2 separate regions of the Homo sapiens genome follow, and region 2 is linked to region 1. The links come from fine-mapping of genetic effects on gene expression. A gene starts in region 1. The other region holds a variant in brackets. All regions are shown on one strand. Distances are between the middles of the regions. Region 1 holds the start of MAEA (macrophage erythroblast attacher, E3 ubiquitin ligase). Region 2 overlaps MAEA (macrophage erythroblast attacher, E3 ubiquitin ligase).

The links.
Region 2: its variant is fine-mapped to the expression of MAEA in lung (TOPMed, PIP above 0.99). The same link has a PIP of 0.9 or more in CD4 T cells, NK cells, blood mononuclear cells, breast, cerebellar hemisphere and coronary artery.

What each region holds. Positions count from the first base shown.
Region 1 is chr4:1,287,703-1,293,061 of GRCh38, reverse strand. It overlaps MAEA (macrophage erythroblast attacher, E3 ubiquitin ligase), which reads right to left and starts at 3,171. Exons shown (of 9, transcript NM_001017405.3): 1 at 3,080-3,171. The coding sequence starts at 3,148. LOC105374347 (a long non-coding RNA gene) reads left to right here and starts at 3,491. Exons shown (of 3, transcript XR_925046.3): 1 at 3,491-4,177. LOC105374346 (a long non-coding RNA gene) reads right to left here. Exons shown (of 2, transcript XR_925043.3): 1 at 5,339-5,359; 2 at 4,768-5,036. RefSeq lists silencers at 1,590-1,772, 2,861-3,140, 3,241-3,650.
Region 2 is chr4:1,328,205-1,333,563 of GRCh38, reverse strand. It overlaps MAEA (macrophage erythroblast attacher, E3 ubiquitin ligase), which reads right to left. Exons shown (of 9, transcript NM_001017405.3): 6 at 699-807. Among named protein-coding and RNA genes, the nearest start is that of UVSSA, 16 kb to the left of the region's middle. The variant G/T (reference allele first, on the strand shown) is at 3,035.

The DNA of each region.
Region 1 (5,359 bases):
ATTAGCTGGGCATGGTGGCGGGTGCCTGTAATCTCAGCTACTCGGGAGGCTGAGGTAGGAGAATTGCTTGAATCTGGGAGGCAGAGGTTGCAGTGAGCTGAGATTGTGCCACCGCGCTCCAGCCTGGGCAACAGAGTGAGACTCCGTCTCAAAAAAGAAAAAAAAAAAAAAAAAAGATGGTGAGTTATTCATCTTTCCCCTCCCCCACAAGGCATTACCCACCACCCTACACCGGACGGCGTTCACAGCATTTGACAGCAAAAAGACACAGCCACAGCCAGGACGCAAGGCTGAGTCCTCATGAGCCACACCTCCGTTTGGTAAGAGGAAGAAACAAGTCCCTTAAAGCAGGATCCAGCCCAGCAATTCTCAGGGGTGTGTGCATGCCCCCAGGGCACATCTAGCAATGTCTGAAGACATTTTGGGGGCATGCTCTTGGCATCTGGCAGGCAGACACCAGGGATGCTGCTAGACATCCTAGACTGCACAGCCCCCACCACCGACAAAGGCTCCTCCAGCCCAAACGTTCGCAGGCCGGTCCACCCCTTTGGTGGAAATAGAAGCTCATGACGACAGAGGTGCCCAAGGTCAGTGCGTGTTGGCTGCAGCAATTCACGTCTGTTCCATTCTCTTCCCACTTCACCAGGAAAATAGAAAAATAAGTACCTGCCAGGCACCCAGGAGCCCCACCAGCCGCCCTGACGCTGTGAGGAAGCAGACATCCCAAGTGTTACTGCTGAAACCCACCTAGGGCTACCAAGCCCTCTGAAGAGAAAGGAATCCCCTGTGAGTCTGTGGAGGACTCACATGGCAGGAAAGCAGTTTAACTATTACCAGGTGAAGATCCAGTCCAGAGCATGCCAGCTGCTACCACCCTGCAGGAGGACTTGCTCTCAGACTAGAGAAGCAGAACATCCACCCCCCACCTTCCACAACCCCGGTCCTGCAGCCCTCGGTCCCTTCTCTGACATCTGCACTGGCCCCTCCTGGAAACTGAAGAGTGCAGCTCTTGAGCTGTGAGCTCAGCATGTTCTGTTTAGTTCTATACCAATAAATGCTTCTAAATCAAGGATCCCTAGTTTCCCAGCAAAACACCTCCATTATCCACTAGGAATCACTCCTGAAAACTTCTATGAAAAAAAGTTTTAACTCAGTAGTGACACAAGTGTCAACAGAGAAATTATGACACTATAATATTTCTTTACCTGTATGACTATCTGCATGACTATTTTAATCAGAAGCTATGCAATCACTCTGGAATACAAATTACATTCACGATTACAAAACAGCAGAAGACCTGAAGAAGAATCCTTTCCGGAGACCTTCCATCTCCCTTCCTAGTTCCTTCAATACACAATGAAAGGATTTCTGGAAACTTTTCCTATCTAGTGTTTCCCACATTCACCAGCCAGTACCAGAAGTGACAAACCACCACGGTTCTGATCTTCAAACCTTCTTGTGTGTTAGCTGAAATGACAGGCCTGGAGGTGCACTGCGTGAGACAAAGTGGTCAGTGGTTAGGACTCCCTACTAATATCACCACAATGTCCTTGTATAGACTTCTCTCAGCTGCAGGGTCTCCATCTCTAAACCAACAGAGATCCACCAATGTCACTGAGTATTAAAAACCAACCACCTACATCTTGGAGGGATCTAGCAAGAGGCTAGACCTTTGGTAACGTCAGCAACATTGCCCTCCCTTCCTTGATCAAAAGAAGTGCTGGACACACAAGCACCATGAAACCCCACTGCGAAACCATTAGTGTGGCGGGCGCGTGGCTCACACCTGTCAGCCCAGCGCTTTGGGAGGTCAAAAGGCAGGAGGATCGCTTAAGTCCTGGAATCCAAAACCACCCTAGGCAACAGTGAAACCCCGTTTCTTTTTAAAAATATGAAATAAACCGCTAGTTAATAAAGAGGAGGAGAAGCTTGCTTCTGCTTTCCTATGAAGACCAGCTACAGCAGGGTACAGCCTGACTTCAGCAGCGCTAACTGTAGCAGGGACCTTTTAATGAATGCTAGGCACTGTTTGAAACAATACGTGGTCACTCATTTCACCCTGAGGTGACACAGGCGCTACCACTGCTTAAACCTGACAAGAATAAACAGTCACCAACCGGGCCCTGATGTCTCCCAGTAAGGACGAATACAGAGAAGCCTGATTCACACCCCAGCAGGATGGCTCACAGCCTGTGCTCTTCAGCCCTTCGCTGAACTGCCCTGGGGCTGGGGGAACGCACAGCAACCTGGCCATACTGCATCCTCCACACCTGTCGCCACACCGTCCGTCCTCAGACGGACGTGAACACCAGGGCGCTCTGGGAGGAGAGAGAAACTACGCAGCTCTCCAGGAAGGCAACACAGAACCACGAAGCTCAGCCGCAGCTCTAGGAAAGCTATGACCTTGATCTTTTAAGGAATTCCTTCCCAGGTGCTTCATATCAAATCCTCTACTAACTAGGTAAAGAACAAGTATCGGCTCCTTCTACTAGGAGCACAAATTTCATTCTAAGAAGTGCGACGTGGCTAGGTGACCACCCAAGGTCACGCAACCGGCAGCCGGACGGCAAGAGCTGTATTTCAGGTTTGGTGACGCCCATCAAAAAGGTCGCTGGGTGCCATCAGGCCGTGAGGTTTCTCCCTACAGTTCCTAACTAGCGACCGGCGCAGCCGGCACCTCCCAGCCCTGGGCTCCCGGGAGGGCGGCCGGGCACTGGCTGGGCACGCCGCGCACTCCGTCTGCCTGGGCGCCAGAGACCCCACGCCCCGCAAACTCCGGCTTCCACCCCAGCCCCAAATTCGCCACCCTTAGCGCTGCCAGAGTCGTCGCTGGCTCGGCTCACGCAGCTCTTCAAGCAGAGGGGCCACAGTCGGGCGCCTGGCAGGGCCAAAGCCGCCGCCCCCGCCACACCTGCCCGGCGCGGACCGGGCGCCCCTGAGAAGCCCGCACGGCCCCGCGAGGCCGCGCCCAGCTCCCGCCGCCCTCGCCGCTGGCCCTCCCGGGGCGGCCCCTCGCGGCCCGAGGGCACTGGCTGGAGACGCCTTCGCTGCCCTCAGCCTGCGCGGCGCAGGCGCCCACCTTGAGGGTCGGGTACTCCTGGACCTTCAGGGTCATGGACAACTGAGCCGCCGACTCCTGCACCGCCATCTTGAAGCGGCCAAAACATTAGCGGGCGGGGGACGCGCGAGCGCGCTGCACGCCGGGAAATGACGCCACGCGCCGGCCGGAGCAGGATGGGGGCGGGCCGATGCCCCTGCACCAATCGTATCCGCCCAGTCGGCCGGAGGCGGAAGAAGGCGCGAACCAATCACTGCCGGGTTTCCTCTCGTTCAGCCAATCAACGATAGCCCCGGCTGGCGGTTTCCACCTTGAATTCGCTACCGGGTTCAGGCCGCAGACGCCGGAGCTGGGGATGCTCCTGGCCCGGGGCGGGCCGATGGGGTGCGGGCTGCGGCCCGGGCGGGTGGAGCTGGGGCCGAGCGGGCTGGGGGACTTGGCGTCCGTCCAGTTACTTGGGGCTCCCGCGGGGTGGTCCCCTGTGGGTCCCTCGTGCCTGCGGTACCAAGGGCAACGCCAACAAAACGCCTGGCCGCATGCGCCTGTAGCCAGCTATTTTTCTTTGGCCTTATTTTGACCGATTTACAGCTGCTGGAATCCTGATGTGGAACCTCCGACTTCCCAACGGAAGAGGAAAGGCCCAGTACCTAAAACTGATTTATGGACAGAAACTCCCGAAGCATGAGAAGCGTGTGGCCTCTCCGCCCTCTCCTTGCAGGGCGGGCAGCGCTGGCATCCAGGTCGTGCGCTGCCTTCATTTCAGCCACTTCACATTCTCAGCCTTTCAAACACCACCCGTCTCCCTCCTTTCCAAAATAAAACTGAAATTAGATTTTATTAATTAGGAAATGACGTCCCAATTAAACCACCTTGTGTTTCACATAACACATTTCTAAACAACTTTTAAAATATTTGGTGTTTAAACAAAGGAAAAACATCTAAGGTGACACAGCGATGAAGGGAGAACCTCCGCTTGGAGGCTGCTACATGTTACAGCCGCAAGACATCCGACCCGCACTGTGGAATCTTTCTCTGTCTTACTTAAACAGGAGTTGGGACTAAGGAAAGTGTTATTCCTCAAGTGTGTGGCTGCAGACTCCAGTCTTTTAGACATTTGAAGTAAGTTTTACAGTGAGGTGCACAAATCTTAACTATACAGCTTTAATGAATTTTCACCCATATTTGCACTTTTATCTAACCGTGTCCTGGTTGAGATTTAGGACATTTCCCGTGGCACAGAAAGCTCCTCTGCCCCTTCCCGGGCTATATCCCCATCATTCTAACCCTGCTCCCCGTAACAGCGTTCCTGACCTTCCTATAGAGATGGAAGCATGCACTCTGTACTCTTTGCGTCCTTTCACGGTTCGCATCGTGTCTGCCACTCTCCGGGATGGTCCCAGTAGTACACAGGAGCACTGCAGCAGTTGGATGGACTGCACTCCTCTTAGAGACTGCCTTCACTTCACCAGGGATTCAAGATTAACCCAAAGGAAAGGACACGGGTTTCATTTCCATGGTAAAATGATCCTATCCTAGTACCATCTACAGTCAGAAATACTTAGGAATTATAAGGCAGAGGTTTGCACGTTGGAGAGGTTGTTTAACCCTCTACAACCTTTGAGTCATTCATTCTAGGTTTTCTTATGTTGGAAGATAAAACTGTATTTGAATTAGTCCTTTTGTAAACCAAAAAGTGTCTGAGACAGATCTCAATCAGTTTAGAAGTTTATGTTGCCAAGGTTAAGGATCATGACCAGTGACACAGCCTCAAGAGGTCCTCAGAACACATGCCCAAGGTGGTTGGGTTACAGCTTGATTTTATACGTTTTAAGGAGATGTAGGCATCAATCAGTACATGTGAGATTTACATTGGTCCGAAAAGGCAGGACAACACAAAGCACAGCGGGGCTTCCAGCTCACAGGTGGATTCAAAGATTTTCTGATTGGCATTTGGTTGAAAGAGTGCTTATCTAAAGATCTGGAATCGAGAGAAAGGAGCATCTGGGTTAAAAGGGGTTGTGGAGACCAACGTTCTTATTACATAGATGAAGCCTCATAGGTGGCCACCATTAGAAGCAATAGATGGCAAATGTTTCATATCTAGATCTTAAAAAGCTGCTAGACTTGGCCGGGTGCTGTGGCTCACGCCTGTAATCCCAGCACTTTGGGAGGCCGAGGCGGGCGGATCACGAGGTCAGAGATCAAGACTATCCTGGCCAACATGGTAAAACCCTGTCTCTACTAAAAATACAAAAATTAGCTGGATGTGGTGGCACTCACCTGTAGTCCCAGGTACTTGGG
Region 2 (5,359 bases), 41 kb before region 1:
CCCTACCCCAGTGACCGCGGAGAGTCGGAGGCTCCAATATTTACAGATAAAATACAAAGCGTCAGCAAGAGAAAGAACCACGGAAGACGGTGCAGCCTAACTCCTGACTCAGGGGCTGTAGAGAAAGGAGAACCAGGGGGACAGGCAAGGAAGCTGGGCCCCGGCTGAACGCTCCAGGCTGAAAGGCTTCCTGAACCTTTCTCAACTGCTTTTTTTTTTTTTGGAGACAAGGTCCTGCTCTGTCACCCCAGCTGGAGTGCAGTGGCACAATCTTGGCTCACTGCAGCCTCAACCTTATGGGCTCAAGTGATCCTCCCACCTCAGCCTCCTGGGTAGCTGGACTATAGGCAGGTGCTACTATGCCCAGCTAATTTTCAAAAAAATTTTTTTTGTAGAGGTGGGGTCTCACTATGTTCCCCAGGCTGTTCTCAAACCCCTGGGCTCAAGCAGTCCTCCCACCTCAGCCTCCCAAAGTGCTGGGATTCCAGGGGTGAGCCACCACACACAGCCCTGATTCAAATTTCTTATGAGCAAAATGGGAGTCAAACAAGAAAAGCTTGTCTTGGCAGGCTGGACAGGCTGTGTGGCTGGGATGGGGCCCTCACGTCCCGCCCCACGTGTGGAAGCAGCTACAGACCAGAGACACACCCTGGATCCCCACCCCAGCATGACACCGACCCCAGGGACGCACGCCCTACCTTGTACGGGGAGATGTGCGTGTCGGGCGGGAAGGCCAGCATGCCCATGGCCTGGCGCACCTCGTCCAGCTGGCTCCCTTCTGCTTGGCTGAAGTGCTTTCTTGCATGTCTAAAAAACAACATTTTGGCACATTTAAGTTTGCGTTTTAATTTTAACTTTTAGAGACAGGGTTTCACTCTGTCACCCAGGCTGCAGTGCAGTGGCACAGTCACAGCTCACTGTAGCCTCGAACTCTCAGGCTCAGGCGATCTTCCCGAGAAGCTGAGACCGCAGATGTGCAGCACCACACCTAGCTAATGTAAAAAACATCTTGTTAGAGACAGATTCTCGCTGTGTTGCCCAGGCTGGTCTCCAACTCCTGGGCTCAAGCCATCTTCCTGCCCCGGCCTCCCAAAGTGCTGGGATTATAGGCATGAGCCGCTGCACCCGGCCTGCATTTTTAAGTTGAAAAATCTGAGCTAACAGCTTTTATGTCAGAGTCTAGGTACAAAGTAATCGCCTCACTCCAAGCCGACCTGCTGGGTGGGGCTGGGATGGCGGGAGGTGCGGCTCACCAGAGGCTGGAGGAGCAGCTACCAGACACTCCTTCCTCCAGGGGACCAGGGCACCCAAGCCACACAGACAACCCACGGAAAACACCAGAACTGCAAATGGCACCTGCCCCCGAGGGCTCTCCAAAGCGATTCTGGTTTACAAGGAACCCAAACCCTGAGGATTCCCACTCTCCCCAGATGCTCGCCCCCACGGACCCCGTGGCCCCAGCGGACCAAGAACGTGTAGTCTTCTCAACTGCAGTCCTTGCTGTTTGGCAGTGACGCCCAGCACAACCTTCCGAAGAACAGCCTCCCTCAGCCCACAGGCTGGACTCCCTGCAGATCCGGCCCAGCCCTCTCAGCCCTGAGCGTGCCACACACCACATGCAGCCACGATCTTTCCTGAGCCAACTCTGCGGGATGCACACAGGCCTACTCCAGGCCAGAACCCCACTCCAGTCTAAGGCTGGGCAACCAAGAAACCAAAGCAGAACATAACAGATCCCTTTCAAGCTGACCAGCGGGCACCTGCTCACCCCCAGGGCCCCCATTCTCATGCCCCCCCCCACACACAGGGTCACTGTCCCTCTGGCTGTCCTGAGGGCCTGCACCCCCATGTCCTGACCCTCACACGGGCCCCTGTGCACCCCACGTTCTCAGCCCTCAGGGCCCCTCTGCCAAAGCGACCCCAATGCACAGAACCAGGGGCCTCAAGTCCCATGTGTGAGTCAGCCCTGTGCTGTCCAGAACAAGGCATGTACCAAGGAACACAGGGCTGAGGAGGTGCCAGGCGCTCACGGTGGCCTTGGAGAAGATGCAGTGTCTCGCAGAGACTGGAGTTAGTGTAGGAGGTGGCCCAGCAGCCCCTTGATGGATAGCACGGGGACCACGTGTTGGAAGCACCACCAGGAGAGCCCGGGGCAGCAGGGAGTGGGGGGCGTCCACGCTTGGGACCCAGCCTGGGGAGTCCACATGGCTGACGCCCCAGGGCCTGTGCAGGGCCTGGGAGTCGGGGGTGAATCCACACGGCCGACCCCGCAGGGTGCATACAGGGACTGGGAGTCGGGGGTGAGTCCACACGGCTGACCCCGCAGGGTGCGTGTGCAGGGGCTGGGGACGGCCATCCGAGATTCCAGTGCCCATGCATCCCCCTCCTTGGAGCGTGTGGGTGGGCGTGGGTCTGAGTCCAGGAGGAGCCCCACCCAACCCCCTCATTCCATCTCTGGAGACAAGTCACCCTTCGTCACACGCCAAGACGTGCACAGAACACGGCCAACGGGCATCTCACCTCCTCCCAGAGCTGCTGAAGAGAGGAAATTTAATCTCCGTGGTTGACATCTACAAGATCTCATTTGCATGACCTGGTTTACGCGTCTTATCTCACCATCAATCAAACCCCAGACAGACATCATCCGCCTAACAAGCTGCCTCACCTCGCACCCCAGGTCCCTGATCCACAAATCCTGACCCCAAGACAGAAACAGAAAACCTAACAGTGGCGGCTGACTCTTTTCAGATCGTTTGATGCCAGCATTCAGCCCCAACACACAGAGAACTGCAGCCGAGATGTGGGGCCCTCAGAGCAGGTCCGGGGAGAACAGCACGGTATGCATCCACAGGACACAGGGGAAACAAAACCGTGACTTTTAACAAACTAAATGCAGCTAACATAAGAAACACAAAAACTTCCATTTTTCTTTAAAAATATAAACACACGGGCCAGGCACGGTGGCTCACGCCTGTAATCCCAGCACTTTGGGAGGCCAAGGTGGGCGGATCACAAGGTCAGGAGTTTGAGACCA[G/T]CCTGGCCAACATGGTGAAACCCCATCTCTACTAAAAATACAAAAATTAGCCGGGCGTGGTGGTGGGCGCCTGTAATCCCAGCTACTCAGAGGCTGAGGCAGGACAATCACTTGAACCCGGGAGGCGGAGGTTGCGGTGAGCTGAGATTGTGCCAGGCAACAGAGCAAAACTCAACCTCAAAACACACACACACACACACGGAAAGAGAGAGAGAGAGAAACACCCAGAAGACAAAATTCCTAAACTGTGCCTGGCCAGGCTGAGGTGTGGGTGTGCGACAGACGGCACGGAGCTGCTCACACAAAGCCCATGAAGTACAGGCCAGGTCCCAGCCGCCTGGGGTCAGGGATTCACTTACTCATTTACTAAAAATTAAAGGCGTTAAAAGTTAATCACTAGCAGCTCATACTTTTGCATTTCGCAAAAACCCACAAATGCCCCAGGCAGGGCGGAGCTGCAGCCACCCCAGCCAACGAGGCCCCCTGCCCGGCCCAGCACGCTGGCTCCACAGACAGCAGGACTCACCTTGCCTGCCCCAGTGGACCCAGAGGCTAGGCTGCTGGCCTCAAGCCCTGTAGATGGTGCCCGACGCTCCAGCGCCATGTGGACCGTGAGTTCAGAGGTGGACGGGAAGCTCCTGCGGGCTGGGACCCTGGCAGCAGGTGAGAGGGCCCTGCCTGGAGCCCTCAGGAGACATGTGGCCAGGCTTCTCCGCCTTCCCTCTTGTCCAGCCTCAGTGAGTGATACACAACACCCTCTGGGCTCCCAGCCAAACACCCGCACTCCCTCACCCCACAAACGTCCTGCCGATGCCCCACCTGCCACCCCAGCCCAGCTCCCGTGTGCCTTGTGGGTGGCTCCAGGGCCACGCTGAGCTGAGGCCGGACTTCCCTGACCAGGCCCTGGCACCTGGAGAACCACTCCCAAGACGGCCCCAGCAGAGGATGTAGCTCACACTGCGCCTGCCCCCGAGACACTGGGGTGTTGTTTGCCATGCCTGCCCGGCTGGCTGCTGAGGCTTCGAGGCAGCACGTGTCTGCTTGCGGGAGGAAGGACACGCACTTCCTGGGACCTGCCTGCTCCCCTGCAACAGACGAGGCCGCAGAGGGCACAGCTCTGAGCTCGGCTCAGACATTATGAGGTGGAGGCCCCGCGAGTCTCTAGGGCAGATTCTACCCAGAGCAGGGGGAACAAGGCAAAGAGACCCTACACGGAGCGGGGGGAACACAGGCAAAGAGACCCTACGCGGAGCGGGGGGAACACAGGTAAACAGACCCTACACGGAGCCAGGGTAACACAGGCAAATAGACCCTATGCGGAGTGGGGGTAACAGGTCAACAGACCCTATGCGGAACCAGCTGCCACCTAGATGAAGACATCTGTGACGGAGGGACTCCGGGATGGACACGTTTTGTTTTCAGACTCCAGGGCTGACAGTGGCCGGGGCCCTCAAGGAGACGGAGGCTGACTCGGGATGGAAGCAGACTGCCGCCGGACAGAGGCCAGCGACACAGGCACCGAGGCCACACGGAGGCCAGAGCAGAGCGGGAGCCCCTCCTCTTGACAGGGGGCCCCTGGCCGTGTCCCCGCAATGCTCACACGCCACTCTCCACTGGCCCGGGTCCCGAGATCCCCGCTTTAGCCCTCTCAGGCACAGAAGGGACCTCGTTGCAGGCCTGGCTCCCTCGTGCGTGAAGACGAGGCCTGACCTGCCACCATGCGCCCAGGTCAGCATCAGGAGCCGGAGCAGGACCCCGGGCCTCTCCAGGGTCCACGCAAGGGCAGGGACTTGCCGCGGTTCTGCCGTGCGTCTTGGGGACCACCCTCAGCACCTCATCGTGAGACGCCCACTTCTCCAAATGGGCCTTCTGTGGAACACTCGGCCACCCGGCCCACTGCAGGTGGATATGGAGTCGCGGTCGGGTTTCTGTGGGCATGGACAGGTGCCCCCTCCTGGCAAACACACCTGCTGGGCACTCGCCCGGGAGCTGAGGGCCAGCCAGGCCCACACACCCCACACAGCAACTCAAGCGTCACCGCAAGGCTTGGCCGCTCAGGAACCTCCATGAAAGTGAGTGAGACGACCTAGCACTCAAGGAGCAGCCCTGCCCCGAGACGGGGTGAGCATGAACTGGCCGACACTGCCCAGGCCAGGGACCACTGCTGCCTGACGATGCCCACTCTGGGGAGCCAGCGGGAAGCCAGCGGACAGCCTCTCTTCCTTTGCAGACGCCGTGCACCCCAACTGGGCTGAGCCACAGTGACAGCCAGCATCCCCTTCTCAGGCCTGACCACCAGGGCGCCGCTGGCCTCAGCTCACTGCA